7 linked regions of the Homo sapiens genome follow. The gene in region 6 interacts genetically with the main gene of each other region. Each region holds a gene or a part of one and is shown on either strand. Other genes may lie near its edges.

The links.
Region 1: changes in ACACA (region 6) and C5orf46 together harm fitness less than expected from each alone (positive genetic interaction), as found in Homo sapiens cells (one large-scale study listed by BioGRID).
Region 2: changes in ACACA (region 6) and NOP58 together harm fitness more than expected from each alone (negative genetic interaction), as found in Homo sapiens cells (one large-scale study listed by BioGRID).
Region 3: changes in ACACA (region 6) and RAB15 together harm fitness more than expected from each alone (negative genetic interaction), as found in Homo sapiens cells (one large-scale study listed by BioGRID).
Region 4: changes in ACACA (region 6) and RHOG together harm fitness more than expected from each alone (negative genetic interaction), as found in Homo sapiens cells (one large-scale study listed by BioGRID).
Region 5: changes in ACACA (region 6) and VDAC2 together harm fitness more than expected from each alone (negative genetic interaction), as found in Homo sapiens cells (one large-scale study listed by BioGRID).
Region 7: changes in ACACA (region 6) and KCMF1 together harm fitness less than expected from each alone (positive genetic interaction), as found in Homo sapiens cells (one large-scale study listed by BioGRID).

Annotation. Positions count from the first base shown.
Region 1 is NC_000005.10:147,903,341-147,908,403, forward strand, and holds the start of C5orf46 (uncharacterized protein C5orf46 precursor), read right to left. Parts: upstream 3,199-5,063; 5' UTR 3,162-3,198; coding exon 3,092-3,161; intron 1-3,091.
Region 2 is NC_000002.12:202,268,388-202,272,996, reverse strand, and holds part of NOP58 (nucleolar protein 58), read right to left. Parts: intron 1-4,609. UniProt on the Homo sapiens protein: Required for the biogenesis of box C/D snoRNAs such as U3, U8 and U14 snoRNAs. Part of the small subunit (SSU) processome, first precursor of the small eukaryotic ribosomal subunit.
Region 3 is NC_000014.9:64,947,663-64,952,271, reverse strand, and holds part of RAB15 (ras-related protein Rab-15), read left to right. Parts: intron 1-608; coding exon 609-669; intron 670-1,120; coding exon 1,121-1,198; coding exon of another isoform or gene 1,199-1,329; intron 1,330-1,857; coding exon 1,858-1,947; intron 1,948-3,538; coding exon 3,539-3,604; intron 3,605-3,759; coding exon 3,760-3,918; 3' UTR 3,919-4,609. UniProt on the Homo sapiens protein: The small GTPases Rab are key regulators of intracellular membrane trafficking, from the formation of transport vesicles to their fusion with membranes.
Region 4 is NC_000011.10:3,830,960-3,834,459, forward strand, and holds part of RHOG (rho-related GTP-binding protein RhoG), read right to left. Parts: intron 1-3,500.
Region 5 is NC_000010.11:75,216,833-75,221,441, reverse strand, and holds part of VDAC2 (non-selective voltage-gated ion channel VDAC2), read right to left. Parts: intron 3,555-4,609; exon of another isoform or gene 3,484-3,554; coding exon of another isoform or gene 3,451-3,483; intron 2,380-3,450; coding exon 2,227-2,379; intron 2,139-2,226; coding exon 2,086-2,138; intron 700-2,085; coding exon 472-699; intron 1-471. UniProt on the Homo sapiens protein: Non-selective voltage-gated ion channel that mediates the transport of anions and cations through the mitochondrion outer membrane and plasma membrane.
Region 6 is NC_000017.11:37,083,936-37,087,217, forward strand, and holds the end of ACACA (acetyl-CoA carboxylase 1), read right to left. Parts: 3' UTR 1,057-3,282; downstream 1-1,056. UniProt on the Homo sapiens protein: Cytosolic enzyme that catalyzes the carboxylation of acetyl-CoA to malonyl-CoA, the first and rate-limiting step of de novo fatty acid biosynthesis.
Region 7 is NC_000002.12:85,043,745-85,048,353, reverse strand, and holds part of KCMF1 (E3 ubiquitin-protein ligase KCMF1), read right to left. Parts: intron 2,251-4,609; coding exon 2,076-2,250; intron 1-2,075. UniProt on the Homo sapiens protein: E3 ubiquitin-protein ligase which accepts ubiquitin from an E2 ubiquitin-conjugating enzyme and then transfers it to targeted substrates, promoting their degradation by the proteasome.

The sequences.
Region 1 (5,063 bases), on a different chromosome or scaffold from region 6:
AGGACACCCTGATGCTGAAAGATTATTCATTGCATATCAGAAATCCAAATCTAACTGTGTTTCTCGTAGTTTATCTAGCAACCTCAGCACAAGTTTTAACTCAAGAAGTCCCAACTTCTAGACAATGTACCCCTGACTTTGGATAAAGGAGATGTAACTACCTTTTGTGTGGAGGCTGCCAAATTATGTCAGAAACTTTACATCTATATTATATCCTAAAATGGAAACTATTAGTAAAAAAGATTGGCAGGCAATTCTATGAGCATTTATTGTTTACTATGACACAACTAAAGATTTGATAGAAGCACCAGTTTGGGACATATAACCAAAATCAATATACTAATCATCACCTATTCATATATCCAATGATTGGTTCCTTCATTCAAAAAGTATTTTTGGGCCTACTTTTTTAATGTTTTATTTTTGAAACAGGGCTTCACTCTCTCGTCCAGGCTGAAGGGCAGTGAAGTGATTACAGCTCACTGCAGGCTCAACGTCCTGGGCTCAAGACATCCTCCCACCTCAGCCTCCTGAGTAGCAGGGACGACAGGCATATGCCACCACAGCTGGCTAATTCTTGTATTTTGTGTAGAGACGGGGTTTCGCCATATTGCCCAGGCTGGTCTCGAACTCCTGGGCTTGAGTGATCTGCCCACGTCGGCCTCCTGAAGTGCTGGGGTCACAGGTGTGAGCCATCCTGCCTGGCCTGAGCCTACTATTATGTGCATAGTTATGCTAAGAGTCAAGGTAAAAAAAAAAAAAGACAACTGTAGATATGACCTTCACATAAAGTGCTGGGCAACCCAGGTACTCAGAAGGATTGGTTTGTTTTTATTGTGGGAAGGAGGCGGAAGCGGAACTCATGTGTAAGGTGCCTATCGTGCAGGTACTCCATCAGTGCTTTCAGCACATGCCTTAATCGTCATTTAGCTCAGCAGTGGTATCACAGTTACAGCAGAGAAGACAGATGCTCAGGAAAATTAAATGACTCACCTGAAATCACTCATCTAGAAAGTGGCTGACCCAGGGTTTGAACCTAATTTTTTTTAACTCCACAAAGCACATTATTCACATTGTATAATACAACCTCCAAACAATTGTTCTGTAAAGACATTTGCCAAATGCAAAGCAGTAATTTCTTGCATGAAAGATGAGATTTTTTCTCCTGTGTTTCTATCTGGCTACTTGCATAATAAATTCTATTGACTTGTTATTTTAATATGACACTAAAACCTGGCTTTTCAAGATGCAAGAAGCCTGGGATTGGAGTGGGCGGAAATCAAAATCTTGGCCTTAGCTTGTGAACCCCATATATATTGAGAGGTATTAAAGTGTGATGGATTGCATGCTCTGGAGTTTTATAGATCTGTCTGATTCCTGCCTTTAACAAAAAATTAGCCATGTAAACTTGCACACAGTGCTTAACTTTGCATCTCTCAGTTTCCTCATATGTTGTCAGGATTGAAAGATATTTTATATATTATATATCTATATATATATACACACACATACATATATCTATATTATATATACATACATATATCATATATATACCACTTATCGTAGTACCAATCCCAAGATAAACTTACCTTATATAAATAAATAATAAATGAAAGAATGAATAAATAAATGTTATCTGTTTTATTGTTACTATTAATAATAATAGCAGCAAAATGATTTATAATTCACTTTCTCCTCTAGTGCTTTAGAAGATAATATAAATTTTAAAAATGCTATTAAAATATTAAACGATTGATATCCTAGAAACAATCTTCAAAGTCAATAGTTTAATATTTTCTTTTTTCAAGTATTATATGGGATAGCCTTTATTTACAGTAACTACTTTGTTGAGTTTCTTAGTGAATGTGAATATAATGTTCTTAATAAACAGTATTGCTGATATTTGTAGAGTTTTAATAGTTTACAAAGTAATTAAAAAGCATATTCATTTGACCTGGTGAAGTTGATAGTTATCCCGTTTTACAGATAAAGAAACTGAGGTTCAAAGCAGTGAACGATTTAACCAGTTTCAGAGTTTATAAGAGACAGGGTGGTGCCTGGTCTTGGTATCAAATCTCTCCTTTCACTTCACTGTAGTGATTTCTTTAGGAGTAGAATGGACTGAATAATATCCGTGGCCATGTCTAGAGTAATTCTGTTGTAATGTCTGTCTGTGTGTTCTTCAGCCAAGTTACATTCAAAGGATTCTGTCACTAAATGTTTGCACTCCCTCTGTTTTCTGGTCTATCATTCTGAATGGAGCTCACAGACTTTTGCAGACAAACAGTAAATTAATTAATGAGAAGGCAGCATACAGCATGAGCTTCTATGTGCTTGGAAAAGGTGGGAAAGAAATAGTTGCTCGATAATAGTAGAAAGAATCTAGGAACCTAGGTTTCACTCCCAGATGCCACTTTCACCTGTATGTATGCTCAAGTAACTTGCCCTCTGCAACCTGTTTATTAACCTGCAAAAAGGAAAATGATAAAACTGTACATGTTTACATCATTGGATTACTATGAGAACCAAATGAGATTATACATGACAACAATAGCAGGTAGTATTTATTGCATGCTTACTATCAACCAGGTACCCTTCCAATTTGTTTCATTCCTTTTATTTAATTTTCATGATAACTTTACGAGAAAGTTAAATGTCCCCATTTATATGTGAGGCCTAGAGAGATTGAATAGCATTCCTAAAGTCACATTTCTGGTTAGTGGTAGAGCCAGGTACAGGAGTTTTATTCCAGAGTACATATTCTTCACCAATGAACATTATTAGGAATAATTATCAAAAAATAAATGCCAGTCAGCTCCCATGGAATTTATACTAGAATAGTGTCATTATATCATAAGAGCACATAAAAAAATTTCAAACTTCATACATCCACTGAAAATAGAGGCTAGGTTTTTATTAAAATTCTACTTTCTTTGTGTTAGAAGATACACCTCTTGTCTCCCAGGCCAGTGCTCTTTCTGGAGTGCCCAAAGACCCCTTCTTTCTTTTATGTTCTGAATCAGTGCCATCAGCTTTCTCTAGTCACTGCTAACTACTGAACAATTCATGGGCTGTGATCAGAAGCACTTACCTGCATAGCAGGTCAGGAATAAGACAAGCAGTCCCAGGACAACTGTCAGGCGAAGTACTGAGACAGCCATTCTGGTAGCACGGGGTATTCGTGCAGATAAATTGTTCAGATACATGTGAAACAATGCTCCATTTATAGGGCATAGATAGGTGACATCATCTGCTTTGGAATTTAGATTGTTGCACAAGATGTCTGCACAGCTTGCTTTTGGATCTGTACTAATGAGACATACCCTATCATTCAAACCAAACATTTTACATATAGGGAAAGAAAAACCCTCTTGATTTTTAAAATTTGTATCTATAAAGGGTTCTGGAGTGAATCTCTTGAGGCTAGTTTCAAGGCCAGCATTGATAATTAAAGGGATATCAGGTAGAATTGCTCGTCAGTGCCAAGCAGCAGGCAACAAATCAGATTGGCAAGGCAAGCCTACACCCTCCCTTTACACTCTATGCCTTCCCTCGTGCTCTGGGACAATCCCTTGTTCCCACATGGGCATGCCCTTTCACACCCCATGCGTCTGCTCTTGCTCTTCCTTCTTCCTCAGATACCCTCCTCCTTGTCTCCCTTCGGATCACTCCTACGTATTCCTCAGTTCAAATGGTCCTTCTTTGTGATACCTTCATGATAACCACTCCACCCTTCTCCAGGCAGTTTGTTACTTCATCATCTGCCCTATAGCACACTTGACCCCATTGTATAAGAACTAAGTGTTGGCTGGGCGCGGTGGCTCACACCTATAATCCAAGCACTTTGGGAGGCTGAGGTGGGCGAATCACGAAGTCAGGAGTTCAAGACCATCCTGGCCAACATGGTGAAACCCCGTCTCTACTAAAAATACAAAAAATTAGCTGGTCGTAGTGGCAGATACCTGTAATCCCAACTACTTGGGAGGCTGAGGCAGGAGAATCGCTTGAACCCTGGGAGGCGGAGATTGCAGTGAGCGGAGATCACACCACTGCACTCCAGCCTGGGTGACAGAGTGAGACTCTGTCTCAAAACAAACAGAAAACGACAACATAAACTGTCTTATTTATTTTACTTTTATTTTTCTCTTTTTTTTCCATCAACTTTTATTTGAAGTTCCAGGCTACACATGTAGCCAGCAGGATGTGCAGGTTTGTTACATAGGGAAACATGTGCCATGATGATGATTTGCTGCACAGATCAACCTGTCACCTAGGTTTCTTTCTTTCTTTTTTTTTTTTTTTTTTTTTGAGACTGAGTCTCGCTCTGTTGCCAGGCTGGAGTGCAGTGGCGCGATCTCAGTTCACTGCAACCTCCGACTCCCTGGTTCAAGTGATTCTCCTGCCTCAGCCTCCCTAGTAGCTGGGACTACAGGCATGTGCCACCATGCCCAGCTAAGTTTTGTATTTTTAGTAGAGACAGGGTTTCACTATGTTGGCCAGGATCATCTCAATCTCCTGACCTCGTGATCTGCCCGCCTCAGCCTTCCCAAGTGTTGGGATTACAGGCGTGAGCTACCGTGCCTGGCTGGCACCTAGGTATTAAGCCCAGCATCCATTAGCTATTCTTCCTGATGCTCTCTTTCCCCTTGAAACCCTGACAGACCCCAGTGTGTGTTGCTCCCCTGAATGTGCCCATGTGTTCTCATAGGAGAACTAAGTGTTTTAACAGCTCTCTTCTCTTTCAGCTTGTGGATCCACTTATTTGTTTATTGGCAAAATATTGTACATATTCGTGGTGCACAATATGATGTTTTGAAATATGCATATATTGTGCAAAGGCTATATCTGGCTATTTAATACCCAGACTACTCATACTTATCTTTTTTTGTGTGGCGAGAACACTTAAAATCTGCTCTCTTAGCAATTTTCAAGTATACAATACAATGTTATTAACTATAGCCACCATGATGTAAAATAGATGTCTCAAACTCATTCCTCCTATTTAGCTCAAATTTTATATCTTTTGACCAACATCTCCCCAATCCCTCCCACTACCCAACTCC
Region 2 (4,609 bases), on a different chromosome or scaffold from region 6:
ACACCTGGCTAATTTTTTGTATTTTTAGTAGAGATGGGGTTTCACCGTGTTAGCCAGGATAGTCTCGATCTCCTGACCTCATGATGCACCCACCTCGGCCTCCCAAAGTGTTGGGATTACAGGCGTGAGCCACCCCGCCAGGCCGAAAGTATCTTTTAAATATGGCAATTTTGTTACCCAAATGTTATCTTCAAATATACTTGCTTTTCAGCTAGAAAAAATGTGAATTTTACTCATGAGTCATATCCCCTATTTGATACATGTCCTCTTAAAAATAGTGAACTTCAGTTATGGTTAGCTGCATTCTCTGAACAATTTCAAAAAATTTTAATCAGTGTTTTCAGTATAGTCATGAGACTTGGTGAGGTGTCTCTGGATTCTAAAACTTCATGATATACAAAGTTAGAGCTATTAGTTTATAAATTGTTAATACCAACTCTAGGCTTTGTAGTTGTTTATTGCTTTGTGTGACTCTAAGTTTTTCTAGTTTGGGTTATTTTTACCAACATATCTAATTCAACCATGTGTGATTAAATTTATACAGGCTGGGCACGGTGGCTCATGCCTGTAATCCCAGCACTCTGGGAGGCTGAGGCGGGCGAATCACGAGGTCAGGAGATCGAGACCATCCTAGCTAACACGGTGAAACCCCGCCTCTAACTAAAAATACAAAAAAATTAGCTGGGCGAGGTGGAAGGCGCCTGTAGTTCCAGCTACTCGGGAGGCTGAGGCAACAGAATGGCGTGAACCCCAGGGGGCGGAGCCTGCAGTGAGCTGAGATCGCGCCACTGCACTCCAGCCTGGGCGACAGCAAGACTCCGTCTCAAAAAAAAAAAAAAAAAAAAAATTATACATCAGAACAAACCCCTAAAATCATCTTGTCACTCATCTAAGTTTTATACAACTTGCAACATTGTGTTTCTCTTACTGAAAATAATATATAACCAGACTAGAACTGCGTCTTAATGTGTAGATGTGCTATATTATGGACTTGATAAATAATGCTTATTAGCAAAGTATAGTTTTAAATTTACTAGCTGTGTTGTTTTTCCAGAGACAGGGTCTCGCTTTGTTGTCCAGGCTGGAGTGGAGTGGTGTGGTCCTATGTCACTACAGCTTCAAACTCCTGGCCTCAAGCGATTCTTCTGCCTCGGCCTCCCAAGTAGCTAGGACTATAGGTGCACACTGCGACATCTAGCTCTTTTAAAAATCTTTTTGTAGAGACAGGGGCTTGCTTTGTTGCCCAGGCTGATCTCTAACTTCTGGACTCAAGTGATCCTCTTGCCTTGGCCTCTCAAAGTGCTGGGAGTGCAGGAAGGAACCATGGCGCCTGATCCAGCTGGTTTTTTAAATAAAAATATATGCATAATATCTGTGCATACTCTATTTCACAAAATTTAACATGCTATTCTTTTTTTTTTTATTTTTGAGACGGAGTCTTGCGCTCTGTCGGCCAGGCTGGACCGCAGTGGCGTGATCTCAGCTCACTACAACCTCCACCTCCCTGGTTAAAGCAACTCTCCTGCCTCAGCCTCCCAAGTAGCTGGGATTACAGGCACATGCTGCCATGCCTGGCTAATTTTTTTTTTTTTTTTTGTATTTTAGTAAAGTCGGGGTTGCACCCTGTTGCCCAGGCTGGTCTCGAACTCCTGAGGTCTGGCAATCTACCTGCCTCAGCCTCCCAAAGTACTGGGATGACAGGCGTGAGCCACCACACCCAGCTTATGTTATTCTTTTACACTCCCAATTGACCTGTCATCAATTGTAAGACATCCCAATTTTAGGGATGTTAAATATGGGGGTTGTGCCTTTTAGGATTGAGCCCATCCTATCTAATACTTGGGCAGCTGATACAGAATATTGGTGAGGGTATATGGAATTAAGAATTTTAATCACTTTTTTTGTTTTTTTTTGAGACAGTGTCTCGCCCTGTCACGCAGGCTGGGGAGTGCAGAGGCGCGGTCTTCTCACTGCAACCTCCACCTCCCTGGTTCAAGCGATCCTCCTGCCTCAGCTGGGACTACAGATTTGGCGACACACACCACCATGCCCGGCTAATTTTTGTATTTTTAGTAGAGACGGGGTTTCACTATGTTGGCCAGGCTGGTTTCAAACTCCTGACCTCATGATCTGCCCACCCCAGCCTTCCAAAGTGCTGGGATTACAGGTGTGAGCCACCATGTCCAGCCTCCTCATTTTCATTTTTAATTGATTGCTTGAGACTTTGTGTGGTTTTTGTTTTGTTTTGAGATGAGGTCTCACTCTGTTGTCCAGGCTAAAGTGCAGAGGCTCAATCACAGCTCACTGCAGCCGTGACCTCCCTCCCACCTCAGCCTCCTGCAGCAGCTGGGACTACAGGCAAGCACCACTGTGCCCAGCTAATTTTTTTTCCGCCATGTTGCCCAGGCTGGTCTGCAACTCCTGGGCTCAAACAATCCTCCTGCTTCACCCTCCCAAAGTGTTAGGGTGACAGGCGTGAGCCACTGCACCCAACCTCTATGTTTTGTGTAAATTATTTGATGCTAACTTTTAAGTTTCACTTCCACAGACAATATGAGCAAGTTAATATTTTATGAAACTTGTTTAAATACAGGATAAAACTGATAATTAGTTTAAAATGTGCACTGCTCAAAAAGAAACAAATCCATACACGCAACAAATGTGAAAAAGCTCTTCGGTTAGCTTCAGAAGCATTACACTAAGTGAAAAAAGCCAAACACAAAAGACTAAAATACTACTCCACTTACATGAAACTTCTAGAAAAAATTATGCAAAAAGAAAGCTGAACAGTGGTTGTCTAGAGCAGGACTAACTTGAAAATGGGCATGAGAACTTTTTGCAACAAAGTGTACTATAAAACTGGATTGTAACTAAAACCTATAGGTGAGTTATACAGTATGTAAAGTACACCCAATAAAGTTAGAAAAAATATATTGCTCAGTACTTAGGTTTTATATAGACATTTGGTATGTACATCAAAAATCTTTCTCCAAACCTTGAGAAAATGAAGTGACACAAAATGCTATGCTACACAGCTACACTGTACAATATAACCATTAAAATTCAAGTAAGTTAAAATTCACTTCCTCAGTCCTATCAGTTACATCTCATGTGAAATGGTTATACGTACTAATGGCTACCACATGGAAGAGCAGCTGAAGGAAGTCTGGTATGAGCAAGACTAAAATCTTATGCTGTGTGCCACGTGACACAAGGACACAGGTGGAATTTCTTTTTTTCTTTTTTTCTTTTTTTTGAGACGGAGTCTTGCCCTGTCGCCCAGGCTGCACTGCAGTGGCGCGACCGCAGCTCATTGCAACCTCTGCTCCTAGGTTCAACTGATTGTCCTGCCTCAGCCTTCCAAGTAGCTGGGGTTACAGGCGTGAGCCACTGCTCTCGGCCACAGGCTGAATTTTTATAATATCCTAGAATTAATCACAACAGTTCCTTTACACAATGTCTTTACATTTATATATATATAACCCTGTTAATGAGCAATAACTTTTTGGAAGTGTTTTCCTTTTGAATCGCTCTAAACACATAAGTGGGCAGAACACCGTACCTCATGGCTGTAATCCCAGCACCTTGAGGCCAGGAGTTTGAGACCAGCCTAGGCAACATAGTGAGACTCTGCCTCTTAAAAAAAAAAAAAAAAATTTAGGCCAGGCATGGTGGCTCACGCCTGTAATCCCAGCTACTTGGGAGGCTGAGGCAGGAAAATCGTTTGAACCCAGGAGGCGGAGGTTGCAGTGAGCCGAGATCACACCACTGCACTCCAGCCTGGGCAACAGAGTGAGACTCCATCTCAAAAAATAAATAAATACAAATACAAATAAATAAATAATTAGCCAGGCATGGTGGCTTGAGCCTGTAGTCCCAGCTACTCGGGAGGAGGTGGGAGGATCACTTGACCCAGGAGGCCAAGGCTGCAATGAGCCATGATCCTGCCACTGCACCCCAGCCTGGGTGACAGAGCAAGACCCTGCCTCAAAATAAATTTTAAATACATAAACATGAATTTGTATGTGTACATGGGTTATACATAAAATGTTTTCCTCACTGTAAATGGAAGTTTAAAAAAAACTTCAAGGCCAGGTGCAGTGGCTCACGCCTGTAATCCCAGCACTTTGGGAGGCTGAGGCGGGCAGATCACCTGAGGTCAGGAGTTCGAGACCAGCCTCAACATGGAGAAACCCTGTCACTACTAAACATACAAAATTAGCTGGGCGTGGTGGTGCATGCTGGTAATCCCAGCTACTCGGGAGGCTGAGGCAGGAGAATTGCTTGATCCTGGGAGGCAGAGGTTGTGGTGAGCCAAGATCGCGCCATTGCACTCCAGCCTGGGCAACAAGAGTGAAACTCCGTCTCAAAAAAAACAAAAAAACAAAAAACTTCAAAAAACTTCCTAAAGCATTCTCATCAAAGCATGAATTATATGCATCCAATATAATTTTTTTTTTTGAGACGGAGTTGTGCTCTTATTGCCCAGGCTGGAGTGCAATGGCACGATCTCAGCTCACCACAACCTCCGCCTCCCGGGTTCAAGCAATGCTCCCGCCTCAGCCTCCCAAGTAGCTGAGATTACAGGCGCACACCACCACGCCCAGCT
Region 3 (4,609 bases), on a different chromosome or scaffold from region 6:
CACTAACCATTGTGAATTTATCTCAGGATTAGGCTTTGCCCTTGGGCTGTGCCACACTATGTTAAGATTGGAAGGAAGGAGGCTACACCCCCCATCATTTAGGGCGAGACCCTGAGAGAGTTCCTCAGGATAGCATGATGAAGTTTCCACAGTAGCAGAGGGTGCTGCTGTGGCTCTCTGCCTGAGGTCTTGGAAGCACTGCCTTTGCCAGGGTTTAGAGCTCCCTCTCAATTCCACAGCAGTATGGGCACTGCCTTCAGAGGTCCCATAGGGACTAGGGGTGTAGCAGCATCCCCTGCCAACTCCCATCCAACCAAATCTGGCCACAGTGGCCAGATTCCAGAGAGCTGTCCAAGGCCTGTTCTGGCTGTGGCTTCTGGTTTCTGCCAGGAGGGCAGTTGGCAGGAGGGGCCAAGGCCCTGCAGGCCTGGTCAGCACCAGCACAGATGACCAGGCCTCTGACTGCAGATCCCTGTGGGGATCCAAGCATCCCTGGTTTTTCACCCTTTAGCTCCCCAGTTTTTCCTACAAGGGGACAGCTCTGCTCTTCCCCTCCCCGTCTGTTCCCATGGTCCCTGCTCCTCTGAGGGACTGGCTTTCTCCTGCAGGGACACTGCAGGGCAGGAGAGATACCAGACCATCACAAAGCAGTACTATCGGCGGGCCCAGGTAAGCCACCACATTGGGGGTTTCAAAGTGGGAAGCTGCCACCCACACTCCCAGCTCTGGGTATTTGAGATGTCTGTGCCACGGATCCCCTAAATACAGTTCGCCTGCTTGGAGGAGCGCAGGGCGTCTTTCAGCTGTTCACTGATCATTTGTCCGTCCATTGTTCATGGCCCACTCACTGCAGGCAGGCCCCTGCCCTCACCCCTGACTTCCACCCTCCATCCTGGGTCAAAGATCCAGGTCAAAGCATGTGGTGTCTTCCTGCTGTAGAGAGTTCTGTGATGGGCCTGGGAGGCGGCAGTGGTGGGGTCTGAGAGAAGAGATATTTCTGGATGCTGAGCAGGGAGAATGGGAGAGTGGGACCCAACCTTTAAGTTTCCACGGCCCCTTCTGGCCCCATGACTGCACTCTCTCTGTGCATATCACATCTCTCTATTTCTCTCTCTCTCAGGGGATATTTTTGGTCTATGACATTAGCAGCGAGCGCTCTTACCAGCACATCATGAAGTGGGTCAGTGACGTGGATGAGGTAGGAGATGCCACCTCACTGCCGGGGTGTGGAGAGGGTGCCTCACCGGGGAAGGCAAGGCGAGGGCCAGATGGGAAGGCAAATGCTTCCAGGAAGCTTTGCCTTCCACAGCCCTGGATGAAGACCTCTGGGTGAGTAAGACATGGGGAAGAAACCGAAGCTGCCATGCCCTCACTCTCTATACCCTGCCAGGCCTCCACGGCTGTGTCTTTCCCGGAAATGAATTAGTTCCAAGTCTTCCCTGTGAGCAGCTTCTTTCCTGAAATCTTGGGACCAGGTGGAGTTGCAAGATTGGGATCTAGTCCTGGCTCTGCACAATAGCTGTGGAGCCTTGGGAAGCCATTTGAATCCTCTGGGTCCCCAGTTCCTGTAGAATGAGGGCTGGACTTACATCCAATGTCCTTTCCAGCTCTGATACCAGTGGTCTAACCCAAGGAAGCACCAGTCTTAGCCAGAGTGTCTTCTACCCTAAGCTCTCCCCGTGATACCCTTGAGGTCAGCCATGGCACTTGGGGGAGCCTGGCACCTGCATCCAGTCGGCCCACCCTGTCCCTAGGGCTCTGGAATTGGTGGTGGGCTGGAGGCAGTGCAGACTCTGTAGGGAAAATTGGGGGGGCAGGCAGCACTCACTGGCTGTTCTGCCCATCCTTTGTCCCTAGTACGCACCAGAAGGCGTCCAGAAGATCCTTATTGGGAATAAGGCTGATGAGGAGCAGAAACGGCAGGTGGGAAGAGAGCAAGGGCAGCAGGTAAGTGGAGGGAAAAGGCAAGTCCACCCCAGGTCCTCTGCTGGGCCTCCAGGGCCAGTCCTGAGCGTGGGGACCTAGGGGTGTGTTCCCCAGTGGCAGGTCCTCCCACACGTCCCCAGCACCCCAAGGCCCTGGGGGAGTGGCCATCCTCGGAAGGCTTGTTGTCTGGGTTTCAGGACAGAAGCCCAGAGATTCGGGGTCCATCCAGAAACAAAGACGTCATAGGCAGCAACTCTCCCAAGTCCAGGTCCCCAAATGCAGGATTGCCCTCTGCTTAAGAGATCATCCCCGTGTTAGTAATGAAGGACTTCAAGTTGTCAACCTCTTCTCTGACAGCATCCAGGCCTAGCTGCCATGTTACGGTCGAGAAATGATCTCCCATCCCACCCAACACTCCCCCACTCCTGTCCTTCTTACCCAGGAAAGAGCCAGGGAGGCAAATGAGGAGACAAAGAGCCACAGCTGGAGAAGCCATGGGGGCAGAAAGGGTAGGAGGATGACGCTGAGGGAATGTCCAAGCATGCAGGGAGACCATCCTCCCAGAGAGCAGAAAGAAATATTGGTTATTTTTTTTTTCTTTCTTTCTTTTTTTTTTTTTTTTTGAGATGGAGTCTCGCTCTGTCACCCAGGCTAGAGTGCAGTGGCGCCATCTCGGCTCACTGCAACCTCTGCCTCCTGAGTTCAAGCAATTCTTCTGCCTCAGCCTCCCAAGTAGCTGAGATTACAGGTGCATGCCACCACGCCTGGCTAATTTTTTTGTATTTTTAGTAGAGATGGGGTTTTGCCATATTGGCCAGGCCGGTCTCGAACTCCTAACCTCAGGTGATCCACCTGCCTCAGTCTCCCAAAGTGCTGGGATTACAGGCGTGAGCCACTGTGCCCAGCCAAGATTGGTATTTCTGAGATAAGTTATCCACTCAGTCCGTGGACCTCAAGAGTTTTCCTCTCCCTTTTCAGTCAATAGCGTTCCATTAGTACTTAAAATGAAATTGATTGTTTGGTATAAAATATAAGACATGGTCATTGACCAATTTGAAAGTAGAGGCAAAGCCTACTAGGATAGTATTTATTGAGCACTCTATGTGTGGCACTGTGCTAAGGCAAGCGCTTTTAAGTGCACGACCCCACTGAATCATCCCACAACCATGGATGGGAGACACACTCAGTCTCCTTTAACAGAAGATAAAGCTGGGGCTTACAGAGAATGTACAACTTGTCCAAGGTCACACAGCTAGCCATCAGTGGCAGTGCTGCTATTCAGGTCTGGGACTGTGGGACTCCAGAGCCCATGTTTTTTACGAGGATGCCATACTGCCACAATGGATGGTGTCTTTATCTCCTGATATATGATTGTGTGTTGGGAGGCGTGGGGTGGCAGCTGGAAGAATGGAGAGGCATATTTGTGGAGGATCTTCCCCCATTCTCTGCTACCCTCTCTTGGAGCTCCCAGTCCCATCTGAGAAATTATCTACTCTGAGAAATCGTCACAACACAGCATGGTTGTGAGTGCAGTGGCAGAAGCCTGTGCCTGGTTGTATGGGCCCCTCCCCTGCCTTACTGACTCTCTTTCAGAAATGTCCTTCTCTTGCAGCTGGCGAAGGAGTATGGCATGGACTTCTATGAAACAAGTGCCTGCACCAACCTCAACATTAAAGAGGTGAGAGCCCTGGTGACCAGGCGCCCGCTCTCTCGGGCTGAGTCCAGCAGAGGTGGGAGGAGGAGCCATAAGATGGACCTTATCCCTCAGGCCGCTGCAGGGTTGCCAGGGGAGAGGAGGAGACACTGGACTAACCTGTGCCCTTTGGTTTCCAGTCATTCACGCGTCTGACAGAGCTGGTGCTGCAGGCCCATAGGAAGGAGCTGGAAGGCCTCCGGATGCGTGCCAGCAATGAGTTGGCACTGGCAGAGCTGGAGGAGGAGGAGGGCAAACCCGAGGGCCCAGCGAACTCTTCGAAAACCTGCTGGTGCTGAGTCCTGTGTGGGGCACCCCACACGACACCCCTCTTCCCTCAGGAGGCCCGTGGGCAGACAGGGGAGCCGGGGCTTTGCCCTGCTGCTGTCCTCTCGTGTGATGACCCTATTGAGTATCAGTAGCCACTACTCCCCCTGCCTGGCCCTGAGAGCGGCTCTGCTGTCATCTCAAGCAGCCCCTGTCCCCAGCCCGTCCACCCTGGAGTGGTCTTCTTCAGCCTGTTTCCCCAGCCACAGGCCTGCTACGACCCCCACGATGTGCCGCAAGCACTGTCTCACCATCCCGCACCCACCAGACAACAGCCAGGGCTGGAGTCCAGGCCACTTTCAGCTGCTCCTTTCTCCGTGCATCGTGTCTCTTCTCTGCTTTTTCTCTCTTCCCCCACTTCTCTTTCTCTGACCCCTCCCCTCCGGTGCGTTTCGTATCAAAGCTCCTCAAACCCCGTCCCCCGTGTGTCCTGCTGTGTGCAGCTCGCTCTTTCCTTCCTTCCTAAGCTATCCAAGGGGATGGACCCAGGCTCGTGGGGAGGTTCCACCCTTGGATCCAGGAAGAACCCTCCACCCTGCCTCGTGGGTGGGCCAAAGGCTACAGGGTGCTTCTTCCTCTTCCCCCACCCCCACTGTCCCTCATGTGCCATGGGCCTGCCTCCCCAGTGACCTGCGAAAGTGGAGCATCGAGGTAGGAGGGAAA
Region 4 (3,500 bases), on a different chromosome or scaffold from region 6:
ATGTGACTTCCTTTCCCTGACTGTCTCCCACAACCAGGGCCTGCTCCCTGAGAGGGGGCAGCCCTGTTTTAAACACAACCAAATCCCTGAGTATTCCTTATCCCTGGCTCCACCCAAGCACCATCAACACTAGCCCATTTTCTCCATTTCACTTGCTATACTGCAAGGCTGCACCCTGGTCTGGGAACCCCTTACCCCCCCAGCCTGGGCTCTCACCACTGGTTCAGAAGCTTCAAAAATCAATGACAAGTGGGGAAGAAAATCCCCACTGGGAAGTGGAAAAGAAACTTTCGTCATGTGGGGGCTGCAAAGGACCCAGGGCTTGGTCCCACCTCCCTCCCAGGCTACAGTTTGCCTTGGAATCAGCTGGGAGAGGAATGGTTTCACTCTATGAAGTTGTGTCTCTGGTTCACATTAAAAAATATTTCCATCCTATTTGCATGAATGAGAGAGAGTGTGTGTGTGTGTTTGTGCGCGTGCACGTGTGCATGCAACGTCAGGACATTCAGATAGAGACCCTCAGACAGTGGGTCAGGGAAGGGCATAAGGACCCTCTAGGCCAGTGGAGAGTCAAATAGAGACCTCAGACTGGAAGTTGAGAGACCTAAGTTCTAACCCCAGCTCTGCTGACTCACTATAACCAAGCATGAGGCATTTACGCTTGCTGGGCCTCAGTTTTCCTATCCAGGAATTAGAGATTAAAATGGTTGTTACAAGAGCACTAGGTGGATGAACTAAGACTTAAAGCTCCTTGGAGGCAGGGGGCATTATTTGTGCCCAGCGGATTACGTGGGAAGCCTTGACATTCAAAGCAGAACTCCTGGGCCTGTAATCTTCAGTTCCACACAGAGCAGGAGAGTGGGTGTTGACAGTATGACTGAAAAGCCCAGCACTGGGCTGGCCCAGGCAGGAAGGCAAGGAGGGAACTCCGGCTGGCTGTCACAAGGCCCAAGAGACTGGAAGTACAGCTCTCTAAAGAGGTGGTTATCAACTAGCAATCAGTAAATCAGCTCTCAAAGGAGAGGGGAAGGACAGCGTAGCTTCCGGGCTGGGAAGGGAACGAGGACCGACACTGGAAAAGGATGATGAGTATGGTAGTGTCCAGAAACAAGCAGAGCAAAGGCAGTGTGGTATAGGGCCAAGAGTACTGGATACCTGACTCTGATGTCTTGAGTTTATCTGCCGACCTTGACCCTTGATAAAAAAGCCCTCATATGGTATAAGCCTTTATAGGTCACATGTTATTATGTCATTTGACCTTTATAACAACCTGTTAGTACTATGCCTATTCTACAGATGAGGAAACAAATTCAGAACAGTAAAAGTAACTCAACATCACACAGCTAGTTAGTGTGGGAGCCAGAACACAAACCCAGTTTTGTGACCCAAAGTCCTGTGTTTTCCTTGGTGCATCATACAGTCTTCAAGTTACCCCTTACCAGCTAACTGTGTGACCTTGATCAGGTAAGTTACTGCCCTTCCTGGAGCCTCTGTTTCTTTATCTGTACAGTAGAAGTAATAATAGTACCCCTCCCAGCCTCAAGGGCAGCATCAAGGAACCTGACCATGGGAATGAATACACTTTGTAAACTGAAGTGCTGTACACACAGGAGGTGACAGGAGCAAAGCCTTTCATCCCAGAAGGCAGGAAGCACTGAGTATGCCTGTATCTGTGGTAGGGGATCAGCCCAGTCCTCCCTACTCAGGTCTAGTTCAGACCTTTATCCTCTCTCCCAAAACAACTCTTCTTTCTGAAATCCTCTGGCCTGAACTGGGTTGAATAAGTTACCATAGCCCATTTCAGGAGGGCATATAGAGTCTAAACTGTGCCAAACAGGAAGAAGGGATGTCAGTGCTGCAGGACACCAAACCAGGAGTGTGACCTATCTGGAGCGGGGTTCAACAATGACTTATTCACTAAGTGGCTTTTTCAAAAGAATCATTAAGCCCAGCTCAGTGGTGCACCTGCAGTCCCAGCTACTAGGGAGGCTGGGCCCAGGAGTGAAGGGTTGTAGTGTGTACACTAGTCAAGGTTATCGTCCCTGTGAGTAGCCACTGCACTCCAGCCTGAGCAACACAGCAAGACCCCATGTCTCAAAAAAAAAAAAAGTTATTTAGTAAATCAATGGTTGCCAATCTGTTTTGTTTTGTTTTTTCTTTTGGAGCAAGGTCTTGTTCTGTTGCCCAGGCTGAAATGCAGTGGTGCCATCACAGCTCACTGTAGTCTCAACCTCCCAGGCTCAAGGCATCCTACCTCAGCCTCCTGAGTAGCTGGGACTACAGGCAGGCACCACCACACCTGGCTAATTTTTGTATTTTTAATGCATCTTTTTGTTTGTTTGTAGAGACAGGGTCTTGCCATGTTGCCCAGGCTGGTCTTGAACTCCTGGTCTCAAGTGATCCTCCTGACTAGCCCTCCCAAAGTGCTGGGATTATGGGCGTGGGCCACCATGCCTGGCCAGATCTGTATGTTATTAGACAAATTACAATGACTTATTCTGGCTTTTTAGTCCCAATTCAGATCATGCCTGGTCCCTCATACTGGCATTCAGAGTTCTTCACAATTTGATAAGGGATATTAGAGTTACGTAGACTTGGGTTTGAATCCTAGTTCTGCCTCTTACCAGCTGTGTGACCCTGAGCTTCTGATGATTTGCCTCTCTAAGCTTCAATTTCCTTATCTTTCAAATGCAGTGGCAACGTACAGTACCTACCACATAGCACTGTTATAAGGACTAAGTGCATTAATGTATAATATGTGCACAATGTAGGTACTTTGCAAGTGTGAGTTCCCAGCTCCCTGTTCCAGAGGGATTTTCAATGTCCTCTGCAAACAAGCCAGGATCATTCTTGCCTCTGAACTTTTACTCTTTGTTTTTCCCTCTGCTGCCATTCCCTCTCCCTTCTCTAATCTTCCTTACTCCTTAAGGCCTAACTTAAGTCTCACAGTTGCATAAGGTTACTGAATTCTTCTTTGGATATCCATTGCATGGCTACCTGTCGCCCAGGTTAGAGTGCAGTGTCGCGATCTCAGCTCACTGCAATCTCCACCTCCCGGGTTCAAGTGATTCTCCTGCCTCAGCCTCCTGAGTTATTGGGATTACATGCATGTGCCATCATGCCCAGCTAATTTTTGTATTTTTAGTAGAGACAGGATTTCATCATGTTGGCCAGGCTGGTCTTGAACACCTGGCCTCAAGTGATCCACCTGCCTTGGCCTCTGAAAGTGCTGGGATTACAGGAGTAAGCCACTGCACCCATGGCCACCCCTTTTAACCCTGCTTTGGCTCTGTGTGATTCTCCTTTTCCAACAGTCATACGTAAGTTTCCCAGCTGTACATGCCCTTCAGTACTGAAGCCTTGGCTTCTCTGGACTAAATGACAAAAAAAAACCTCTAAGTATAGGGCTAGGCACACAGGACTGTACAACCATTGCCTTTTGATCTGCTTGTACCAGCCCTCATCACTGAGATATGGAGAGACTTCTCTGAAGCCCAGTA
Region 5 (4,609 bases), on a different chromosome or scaffold from region 6:
AGAATTGTTTGAACCCGGGAGGCGGATGTTGGAGTGAGCCGAGATCGCAAAAGAGCAAGACTCTGTCTGAACCAAAACAAAAAAAGAAAGAAAAAAGAAAAAGAAAAAAAAACCCAACCACAAAACACCATACATTTTAGGCAATCCTATCAAGTCAGCATCTCACACATCAAAATAATTAAGTAAAATGAATGTACTGGTAGCAGTCTGCCAATATATAATGCCTCTTGTAAAAATACAAAGCACATTAAACCCCATATAAAATGAACATTTACTCTCTCAGCACCAAAGGTCAGACTAACAGTCTTCTACTATAAACTTTCAAGGGGCACCCTAGAAATGACCAAGAATGATTTTGTTTTTAAATGTTATGAGAAATCCTTTAGGGTGCACCCAGATCAATAAGATGACAGACATCAAAATCATCCTCTGAGGGCCCACATCACAGTATCCTATGAAAGAAATACTTACACATTAGTGTGTAGCTGGAAGTCCCCAGTCCTGTAGCCCACTGCAAAGTTATTCCTTGTCAGCTTTGATTTGGCACTGTCAAAGGTCATCTGGTAGCCAGCAAGCCAGCCCTCATAACCAAAGACAGCTGAACCATGGATTGCAGGTCCAGCAAAATCAAAGTCAACATCACAACCAAGGTTTATACACTCCCTCTTGTAAGAAGACTTGATTTTACCACTTTTCTTTCTGGAAAAAGAACAAACTGATGTCATTGGGAAAAATTTACACACACTTCTGCACAAGAGAGCACAAAACAGACTTAAATAAACTGCAGTATGACCAGGGAGTAAAAATCAGCAATACAATAACAGGGAGTAAAAAAGTCAGCTCAATGAACTACAAGACAAGGACACATGAAGCAACTGGACAGCCATCTAGGAAAACTGCTTTGCAGAACAAACAATCAGTCACAAAAGCCTGTTAGAAACACATTAGTTGCCCAAGTTAGTGCAACAACAAAGAGGCAAATATTTGAAGGCAAGCCAATGATAGCAACCATAGTATTCTAAAAGCAGATATGGGCCAGGCATGGTGGCTCCCGCCTGTAATCTCAGCACTTTGGGAGGCTGAGGCGGGCGGATCACCTGAGGTCAGGAGTTTAAGATCAGCCTGGCCAGCATGGTGAAATCCCGTCTCTACTAAAAATACAAAAAAATTTAGCCAGGCACGGTGGCATATGCCTGTAATCCCAGCTACTCAGGAGGCTGAGGCAGGAGAATCGCTTCAACCCAGGAGGCAGAGGTTGCAGTGAGCCAAGATCGCACCATTGCACTCCAGCCTGGGTGACAGAGAATAAACAAACAGGCTGCGAGCGGTGGCTCACACCTGTAATCCCAGCACTTTGGGAGGCTGAGGTGGGCAGATCACGAGGTCAGGAGTTCAAGACCAGCCTGATCAACACGGTGAAACCCTGTCTCTACCAAAAATACAAAAATTAGGTGGGCGTGGTGGCACATGCCTGTGATCCCAGCTACTCAGGAGGCTGAGGCAGGAGAATCACTTAAACCCGGGAGGCAGAGGTTGCAGTGAGCCGAGATCGCGCCACTGCACTCCAGCCTGTGTGACAGAGTAAGACTCTGTCCCAAATGAAAATAAAATAAAATAAAATAAATACAATAAAATAAAATATGGAAAAAAAAAAAAAGGCTGGGCGTGGTGGCTCATGCCTGTAATCCCACCACTCTGGGAGGCCAAGGTGGGCAGATCACCTGAGGTCAGGAGTTCCAGGACAGCCTGGCCAACATGGCGAAACCCCGCCTCTACTAAAAATACAAAAATTAGCTGGGCGTGGTGGCACGCACCTGTAGTCCCAGCTACTCAGGGAGGCAGAGGCAGAAGAATCGCTTGAACCCAGGAAGCTGAGACTGCAGTGAGCCAAGATGATGCCACTGCACTCCAGCCTGGGTGACACAGCAAAGACTCCATCTCAAATAAATAAATAAAAGCAGATACAGAGATTTCACCACCACAAGGTAGCTTAATAAGCTATCAAACAGTAAATGTACACCTTTTCTAAATATACAAAAGAGAAATACTTTTAAATGTAATACAGATAAAAATGTCTGTGCTTACCCTGTGTTTGGTGAGAAGGTAGTATCAAATGTCAGTTTCAAACCTTGACAAATCTATTTTGAAAGAAAAGTAATTTGTTTTCTTTTTTTGAAATACAAAAATAAATTAATAAAATTAATACTAAAATTTTCAAAATGTTACCTGGTCTTCAATTGCGATTTCTGTTCCCAGAGTGTTATCAGTGTTCCACTTTTCTGTGAAAGTCAGACCATACTCACACCACTTGTATTTGGTCTCCAAGGTCCCAGTAACTTTACCAGTGTCTGTATTAGATGAACCGGACGTTGAAAATTCCTAACAAGACAATCAATAACTTCATGAACATTCTCATAAGCCTAGAATTCATCACTGCCTTACACACGCACACACACACAAACCCCCTGAAACATTTGGTAAATTCATGAATCCTTTTTCTAGCTTCCTAAACACTCGTATCCTTCTGCACTGTGCTACTCTCTAAGCATATATAAGAGTGACAAATAAGCCTTTGAGCAACTGACTGCCACTTTACATACACAGCTGACACTTCCAATCAATCACAAGTTAACCTGTAGTGAATTCTCAAGTGAACAAACTGTACACCTTTTTTTTTTTTTGAGACAGAGTCCCGCTCTATCGCCAGGCTGGAGTGCAGTGGCGTGATCTCGGCATACTGCAACCTCCGCCTTCCAGGTTCAAGTGATTCTCCTGCCTCAGCCTTCCAAGTAGCTGGGATTACAGGTGCCCGCCACCACACCCAGCTGATTTTTGTATTTTTAGTACAGATGGAGTTTCACCATGTTGGTCAGGCTGGTCTCCAACTCCTGACCTCAGGTGATCCACCCACCTCGGCCTCCCAAAGTGTTGGGATTACAAACGTAAGCCACCACCCCAGCTAACTGTACATCTTTTAAGGAAGGTTTTGCTAAGGTGATTTTATTTGGGATTCAAAAATCAATGGGGGACTGAGTGTGGTGGCTCATGCCTGTGATCCCAGCACTTAGATACCAGCCTGGGCAACATAGCAAGACCATGTCTCTACAAAAATTAAGAAACCAGCTCAGCGTGGTGGTGTGCGCCTGTAGTCCCAGCTACTCAGGAGGCAGAGGTGGGAGGACTGCTTGAGCCTGGGAGGTCCAGGCTGCAGTGAGCCATAATCCCACCACTGCACTCAGCATGGGTGACACAGTGAGACCCTGTCTAAAAATAATAATGTGCCAATCCCTGGTTGCACACGAACTGAAAAAGAAAAAATACGGAGGGCTTATCTGAATTTTTTTTTTTTTTTTGAGACAGCATCTTGCCTCTGTCACCCAAGCTGGAACACAATGATGTGATCACAGCTGACTGCAGCCTCAACCTCCCAGGCTCAAGTGATCCACGTACCTCAGCCTCCTGAGTAGCTGGGATCACAAGCATCACCACGCCAAGCCTAAGGAAGACAGCTGATGTGAAAATAATAAAGAGACTACAGCCAGAAATTGTGATATCTGTAGAGTGAGAAATATCAAAAATTGTATCAATAGGAGGAAAGGCCAGTCAACCTTCTCTCAGAAAATAGAACATTTGTATAACTATTGCTCTGCTGTTAGAGACAAATCCTTAGGTCTTACATCACTCTCCTAAATTAGACCCTTTCATTAACAGGAATTTCAAGTCAAAGCATAGCCCTCAATACCTATACTAAAAAGCACTGGACTGGCTGGGTGTGGTGGGTCACACCTGTAATCCCAGCACTTCAGGAGGCCAAGGCGGGCCGATCACTTGAGGTAGGGAGTTTGAGACCAGCCTAGCCAACATGGTGAAACCCCGTCTCTACTAAACATACAAAAATTAGCCGGGCATGGTGGTGCATCCCTGTAATCCCAGCTACTCAGGAGTCTGAGGCAGGAAAATCACTTGAACCTGAGAACCTGAGGTTGCAGTGAGCCAAGATGGCACCACTGCACTCTAGCTTGAGTGATGGAGTGAGTGAGACTCCATTTCCAATTAAACAAAAAAGCACTGGATCATGTTAGGAAACACTAGATATAAAAATTAGGAGTTCTGATGTCCAGTTCTTCGTGTCATTTACTAAATGCATCACACTGAGCAGGACACAACATTTTGCGGTTTTTTTTGGAGACAGGGTCTCACTCTGTCGCCCAGGTTGGAGTACAGTGCCACAGTCATAGCTCACTGCAGCCTCAAACTCCTGGGCTCAAGCGATCCTCCTATCTCAGCCTCCCAAGTAGCTGGGACTTCAGGTACCCACCAACAAGCACAGCTAATTTTTAAATTTTTTTGTAGAGACGGGGTCTCACTATGTTGCCCAGGTGAGTCTCAGAACTCCTGGGCTCAAGGGATCCTCCTGCCTTGGCCTCCCAAAGCGCTGGGATTACAGGAATGAGCCACTGTGACCAGCCTCACTTAACTTTTTTGGGTCTGTTTCTGCAACTATAATTACAAAGCCTACCTCCGAATGATTAAATTGAACTGACACTGTGAAAGTTTGTACGTTTTCATATGCTCCACAGAAAAGGAAAGCATTACTAAAACAATATAT
Region 6 (3,282 bases):
AGCAAAGGGCAGGGATTTGCCTCCTGTGACCTGTATCTTTGCAGACATTCAGGAATTGGTGCTTATTCCTGCCTTAATTATAGGGATTCATAGAAAGCTTTTTTTTTTTTTTTTTTTTGAGACGGAGTCTTGCTCTGTCACCAGGCTAGAGTGCAGTGGTGCAATCTCAGCTCACTGCAACCTCCGCCTCCCAGGTTCAAGCAATTCTCCTGCCTCAGCCTCCTGAGTAGCTGGGACTACAGGTGTGTGCCACTGCTCCCACCTAATTTTTTATATATTTTTAGGGGGTTTCACCGTGTTAGCCAGGATGGTCTCAATCTCCTGATCTCATGATACACCCACCTCAGCCTCCCAAAGTGCTAGGATTATAGGGGTGAGTTACCATGCCCAGCCCATAGAAAGTTTTTTTAGAGAGAGAAACTGAGGCAGAGGGTTGACGGCATGGAATCATGAGCTTCCTGCCCCGAGTGCCTTTTTGTGCCCAGAGTTAAAAATCCATGAATAGCTAAAGAAAGAAAATCTAAAACCTTCCTCTCAAATCTCTAACAAGGGCCATGCGGCCCCAGTGTTTACACTGAGTTATCAGAGCACTCTCAACTTCCTGTATGCTGAGAAGGGACTTCTGAGGAGGACAGTGGGCTCTGGGCTTCCAAGGCCTGGAGCTGTTATCCTCACTAAACAGCTGTGGTCTTTCTTGTCCCTGCTCTAAAGACATTCTCTTTTGGAGGGGACATTCCTGCCAGGACTCCCATCCAGCTCTCAGCAGGAAGAAGTTTCCCATCCTGAAAAACTCAACAGAAACTAAAAAACTGACCCTCTGCTACGGGGTTCCCGAGCATTTGTAGCCTTTCAGAGTTTGACCTTGATTCAGCGGATAAGACAGGGCTGGCCAAGGCCAGCTTTTTACTGCCTACCCATCATCTTTATGCAAGTTCAGGAGACAAAGGGCTTTAGGTGTTACAGGGCCATGGAGGGGCTTGCCCCACACTGAGCCCCTGCTGAAAGCAGAACAAGAAATGAGGTGGCTGGGCATGGATTGAAATGACAAACTGTAACTCTTCTACAAATGTAGAGGTTTATTTCAACAAAATGTGTAAAGAGTGCATCTGAAGCTCCTGCTCATCACAGTATGTGTCCATCAAATTCTGAGACAAGTGAAGGCTGTTTTGTGAACGAAGAGAACAGATAATATGGCGGTCTCCGTCCAAGCAGGTCTTGGTCAATATCCATCATTTATACTCCTCCTGCCTTAGTAGCCTTGCATGTTTGAGGGGCTGTGGGAATGTCAGATTGCTCATGTTCTGTGCCTCCAACTTGAAAAAATCCTTGTCCAGGGTAAGACCTACAGTAAGGAGCTCTGGGGATGGGGGAGGAGGCATTACAGGGTTCTAGAGAGGAAACATACTCGTTTGTGTCATAATTTGGTGGGGAGAGGGGAGGTAAATGAGTGTAACCCACCCTGCCTCTGAAGACATGCCTGGACAGGCCTCCTGGGGGGTGCAGGACTTCATACCACTTGTAGATATGTGGGATTTGATTTATTGCAAAAAAGCATAGAAGAATAATCTGGTCAAAAATGAATCCAATTCTTACTAGGTAAGCAAATAGCCAGCAATGGTCAATGCATTTTCCTGGACTGAGAATTGTCCCCCACCACTTTATGCCCTTTTCTGAAGGTGCTGAACACCTGTACCTTCCACCAGGGCAGCCGGGCTGAGGCTCTGACTCCTGGGGGCTGTCCGCTCCATACCCAGCCATACAGTGCCCACCTGCAACCCAGAACCATTGAAAAGTCCAGCCAATCTATCCGCACAGATTCCTCCTGAAGAAGGGGAGGTGGAGCTCGTTCTTGTGTGCAAACTACAGGGTTAAGGCTCAGAACTGTGGCTTGTCCAAGAACGTTCATACCACTGCTTCTCAAATGTCTTAGTGATTTCCTCCTTGGTCATCAGTGACAAATGCAGTTAGCTGCACTAAAGGAACCGGATGCTACACCAGCCCTGATCACCTGCCACTCTTGCTTTAGGAACAGAGGAATCAGTAAGTTCTTTTCTTGAATAAACTAGTTGTTGAAAGTAAACTCTCTCCACCACCTGAGGAAGCCCCTGATGCCAGTCAGGAGGGGCCAGTAAGCCTGGAGGACAGCAGCACCATGACTGAGTTGTAAATAATCTTAAGGTCATGTGGATTCTGTGTTTCCTGGAAGCCTCCCTCATCAGGAAGGCCAGCTCCTGGTGCTGAGGGTGTAGCTGTCACCAGGGTCCTTTCAGAGCTGTGGGGAGACCTGCTGCCTGTCTACACTCTGGGGAAGAGAGTAGAACCGTTAGCTGCTAGGACAGTAATCCTGGAACTAGGGAAGAGTGAGTGTGGAGGCACCATTAACCTCTCAAAACCATCCAAGCTCCAGGCTTCATAGGAACAACTTTCCAAGTCCTCAAAACAAACAGACTATCTATCTATCTCACTGGCTCTCCACATGGCATAAATAACTAGTTTCCACCAGTGCAGAAAGGGCAGTTCTCTTCTGGCTCCTCCTCTGCCAACTCAGGCTTCACCACCTGTGGAACTGCTGGGGCCCCTCAAGCACTGGCCTTGCAGCTCCCAGCCACATGCGACAGCTAGTCCAGCAGTGACGTGCAGGCGAGAGGCAGGCCAACAACTACCTTTCCCTTTGTCCTCAGAGACTGAACCCAAGGTTGAGGTCCCCTAAATCAAGAATAACTGGTTCTATTTTCTTTCTCTGCTTCTTGGCTCACAGTTTTGCCCTCATCTTTGAGTTCCTATGGAGCTTGTAGTAGATTTTATGCTCTAATTTTTCTTCATAAAAGGTACCGTAGTGTGGTTAAACTGGGAATCATTCCTCTCCAGTGCCTACTGTGTGCTGGGCTAAGAGTCGGGGTAATAAACAATGGACTTGAGGCTTCCTCCTCTCCTTAGCCCTCCTCTGCTGCCTGTGGCTGCGGCTCATGGGGCCAGGAGTGAGGGGGGCTGCTCACTGCTGGGCAACTCCTCACGCTTCCCCATGCTGGGAGGCCAAGGGGCTGTCAGGACAGGAGGGGCAGCCCTACTTTGGTTAGTAAGACCTCATGGTACATGTTTGTACCTTTCATTGCCTTCTCAGTCCTGTGCAGGGAGTGGAGGACTAGGCCTGGCCAGGGTAATAAATACTGAATGGGGTAGGTGTGACTGGTGGGCTGGAGGGGGATTCTGTGATCTTACATCCCAGGATGTCATGCATAACCTGAAACGAGAGGAAGTAAAATGCCATTTGACTCCAGTGCT
Region 7 (4,609 bases), on a different chromosome or scaffold from region 6:
GAATTTTGCTCCCAGAAACTACTTTAATTTTTAGTGCCTGCCACCAAAATAGCAGGTAAATATTCCCTTTGGATGAAGAAATATTTTTTAAATCCCCCAAACTCAGTTTATTAGGCTTGTTTTTGTTGTTGCACACACAAATGTCCAAAGCACATTTGGAATTAAAATTTTATATGGTATATCTAACTTTTAAATAACATGATAGGTATAAAATTGTTCTTAGGTTGTTTTTCTTTTTTAAATTTTTATTTTAGGTTTGGGGGTACATGTGAAGGTCCGTTACACAGTTAAACACCTGCCACGAGGGTTTGTCATACATATTATTACATCACCCAGGACCCAATTAAGCCCAGTACCCAACAGTTATCTTTCTGCTCCTCTCTCTCTTGCTACCCTCCCCCAGTGTCTGCTGTCTCCTCCTTTGTGTTCCTAAGTTGTCATTTAGCTCTGATGTTCTCAGTTTCTATTACAGATTTACACTTATCAATGTTTCAGGTGTTCTGCAGGGTGCTCATGGCTTCCAGGTAGGTGCACACTTCACCACATGGACACATTTCAGAATTGTTGCTTTAAATGTGTGCACACTTCCCACTGTCTTACCACTTGTCTGCTTGGTGTGTCTTGCAGATTATCAGGCTACAGTGATTTCTTGTATTTTATTTTGACCCTGTGTTCTGCTACCAACTTCCTAGGTTTGTCATGTACTAGACTCAGTGACATGGCCAGGTTCAAAAACTGTGTTTTTTTTTTTTTTTTTAAGATTTTTCCCAAGCTATTAAACATGTACCTTTCAGTATGTTCTACAACAATATAGTTCTCAAATCAAGGTCAGGACATTAAGTCCTACTTTCCTTTCTTCCATGAGAAGAGCTTAATTCTTTAGTCTTTTCAATTAGCTATAGATAACAGTTCTGAAATGTGTCCATGTGGTGGAATGTGTACCTGGAAGCCATGAGGCGCCTTGCACAACATCTGAGATAGGCATAAATCTGTGACAGAATTTTACACATAACATGTTCTTAAAAATGTTAGCTATACCTTATAAAACCTTAATTTCAAATGTGCTTTGGACATTTTTTTATGTGTACTTATGGAGATTTAACCATGACATTTTGGAGGTATTCAAGTTGAAATCTTTTATGATTTCCTTGGGCTTCAATAGAGGCCACAAATACAACATAAAACCATTTCTTATCATCTTTTGTCTCTAAGAACAGTAGTCTCCCTTTACCTGCAGGAGATACGTTCCAAAACCCCCAGTGAATGGCTGAAATGGGCATTTGGATAATACAGAACCCTATACATACTATGTTTTTTCCTATACATACTTATCTGTTGTGCTAAAGTTTAATTTATAAATTAGGCACCTAATTTATAAATTAGGAACATGAGATTCCCAACAAAATAGAGTAAATCTAAAAATATACTATGAAAGTTATGTGATGTGGTCTCTCTCTAAGTATCTTATTGTCCTGTACTCACCTATTTTTTGACTGTAGTTGGTTGTGGGTAACTGAAACCCAGGAAAGCAAAACCACATGACGGGGGGACTACTGGACTTAAGCAATGCCAGAAGAGTATGAATTACTTTATGTTAAGTGTCTGCTTTTAACACATTTTACACTTTTAATGTATTTGGGAATTTTGTGAAGGAACATGGCTTATGATCAGAGAGGTGAGACTTAAGAACACAAATCTCACAAAAAGTTTTTTTTTTTTTTTTTGAGACAGGGTCTCACTCCATCACCCAGGCTGGACTGCAGTGGTGCGATCTCGGCTCCCTGGAACCTCCACCTTTCAGGCTCAAGCGATTCTCATGCCTCAGCATCCAGAGTAGCTGCGATTACAGGCACCCACCACCAAATCTGGCTAATTTTTTTATTTTTAGTAGAGATGGAGTTTTGCCATGTTGGCCAGGCTGGTCTTGAATTCCTGGCCTCAAGTGATCCACCCGCTCCAGCCTCCCAGAGTGCTGGGATTAAAGGTGTGAGCCACCGCACCTGGCATCACAAAAAGTTTTAAAAGGAGCTCCTCCTTCCCCTGCCATTTCCCTTATTAATGTGAAACTAACTTACCAGCTATAGGATCCATGGCTTCCCTATTGCTTGGAGAATATGAACTCTGAGAAGAAGAAAGTCCACCAGTAGAACTGCTAGTAAAGTGCATGTTTGATCTACGAGCACGAGGACCTCCTAATCCCCGGCCAGGGTGAAACATTCTACGTACATGTCGAACACCACTCGATTCATCATAACCCAAAAGTTAAGAAAAAAACGAAAGTATTTCACAGAAAGAAAAAAAATCACCTGAGTCCTTGCTAGACAGATGTAAAGATTTCCTGAATTGTAAGCATTTAAAAACAGCACATTTAACTTAAAGTGCAAATGTCCCAACTCTATCTATGAGGGCTATTAACCCTAAAAAGACACTCAAATGTAAGGCAACATGTGAGTGTGTGTGTGTGTATTGGGTGTGTGAGGTAAAAAAGTTTCTCTATATAGCTCATGAAATCTCAAATACCACCTATAATGAAAAAGGAACAATACTGAATGTATATTCAGCACATCAAAGGTTCCTTTTGGATTATTAGTTTTACTCTGTCTTCAAGCTTCTTTCCAATGCCGCTGCTAAGCAGAAAACAGATTTGCATTTCTTGTATAAGACACACAGATAGATTAACATGACATTTATCACGAAGAAAAATTCCCAGCAGCCTCAACCGTCTTACACAGCTGAGTGTAAGTCAAACTGAAAAAGGTCCTGAGTTGCAAATAGCTGTCAAAACTCATGAAGACAACCTTACGTTTCCACAAAGGCAAATGAGAGGTGGGGGAGGCCAGATCATATAGAAGAGATTTTTCCTTTAAAGTACCAAACAGACCAGCTTTATAATGCAGATTAATTTTTTGGCTGGCTTCTCAGTTTTTCAGCTGATGGTTCTGGAGTTATTTAAGGACCGGATGGGTAGCTCCAAGAGGCCTTCAGGTGTCACGGTACATGCCCTGTTCCATCATATTCATGAGGATGGTTTGGGTTCTAGAGAAAGTGATATGATCATATTTATATATTTGATAATTTTATATTATGATTATATATACATATATATATGTATCTTGAGACAGGGTCTCACTTTGTTGCCAGGCTGGAGTGCAGTGGTGCAATCATAGCTTACTGCAGCCTTGAGCTCATGGGCTCAAGTGATCCTCCTACCTCAGCCTCTTGAGTAGCTGGGACCACAGGTGTGTGCCACCAGCTGAGCTCATTATTTTGGTAGAGATGGGGTCTTCCTATGTTGTCCAGGTTGGTTTCAAACTTCTAGGCTCAAGTGATCCTCCCACCTTGGCCTTTCAAAGTGCTGGGAGTATAGGCATGAGCCACTGTACCCAGCTGGTGACAGTTTTAGACGAACAATTCATAACCTGAAATCAGAAGCATTGAGTCCACAAAATTAATCGCTCTGGTAGGCCAGTAATCTCAGGGAACACTGCCAGAAACTGTTGAGAGACAAGGAAGGGAATGCAGAAATAAAAGCAAGAGGCTGGGCGTGGTGGCTCACGCCTGAATCCCAGCACTTTGGGAAGCTGAGGTGGGCAGATCACCTGAGGTCAGGAGTTCGAGACCAGCCTGGCCAACATGGTGAAACCCCATCTCTACTAAAAAAATACAAAAATTGGCCAGGCGCAGTGGTTCATGCCTGTAATCCCAGCACTTTGGGAGGCTGAGGCAGGCAGTCAGGAGTTCAAGACCAGCATGGCCAAGAGACCAGCCTGGCCAATATGGTGAAACCCCATCTCTACTAAAAATACAAAAATTAGCTGGGTGTGGTGGCGGGCACCTGTAATCTTAGCTACTTGGGAGGCTGAGGCAGGAGAATTACTTGAATCCAGGAGGTGGAGGTTGCAATAAGCTGAAGATAGCACCATTGTACTCCAGCCTGGCTGACAGAGCAAGACTCCGACTTTTAAAAAAAAAAGAAAAGAAAAGAAAAGCAGGAAAGGAAATTTAAAGCTAGAGCTGACCTTATGCTATCCTACTCAGGAACTCGGCAGGAAATGGCTCTCTCTGGAGAAGGGGACCCCAAAAAGGAAAGGAACACCAAGATGCACACCTGTCCCCACCATCTCACCACACCACACCCACAACAGGGTAAGGCAGCAGAGGAACAGAGAGGGAAAGCAAATAATGCCTCTTCATATTTAACTAATTAAATTTTAATTTGGATTAACATTTTCCTCTTTTGTATGAAAACGCCATCCTGGAAGACACAATTTGGTCAAACTGCCTTAAAAAAAATCTAATTGTAATGAACTAAAGATGAAGGACAAGTCAACTTTCACTTAATGAAAATGGTTCATACAATGGTGATAGTATATAAAAAGAGAAATAAATTGCATCTCAGCACTGAGTCACTTTTAGGAAAAGTTCAAATAAGTAAAAATAATTTGGACATTACTTTTCCTCTTTTGGGGGATATGATCCTTAAAAAAAATCAAAATGACAAGCTGGATGCAGTGGCACATGTGTGCCTATAGTCCCAGCTACTCAAGAGGCTGAAGCAGGAGGATCACTTGAGCTCAGGAGTTTGAGACCAGCCAGGTCGACACAGCGA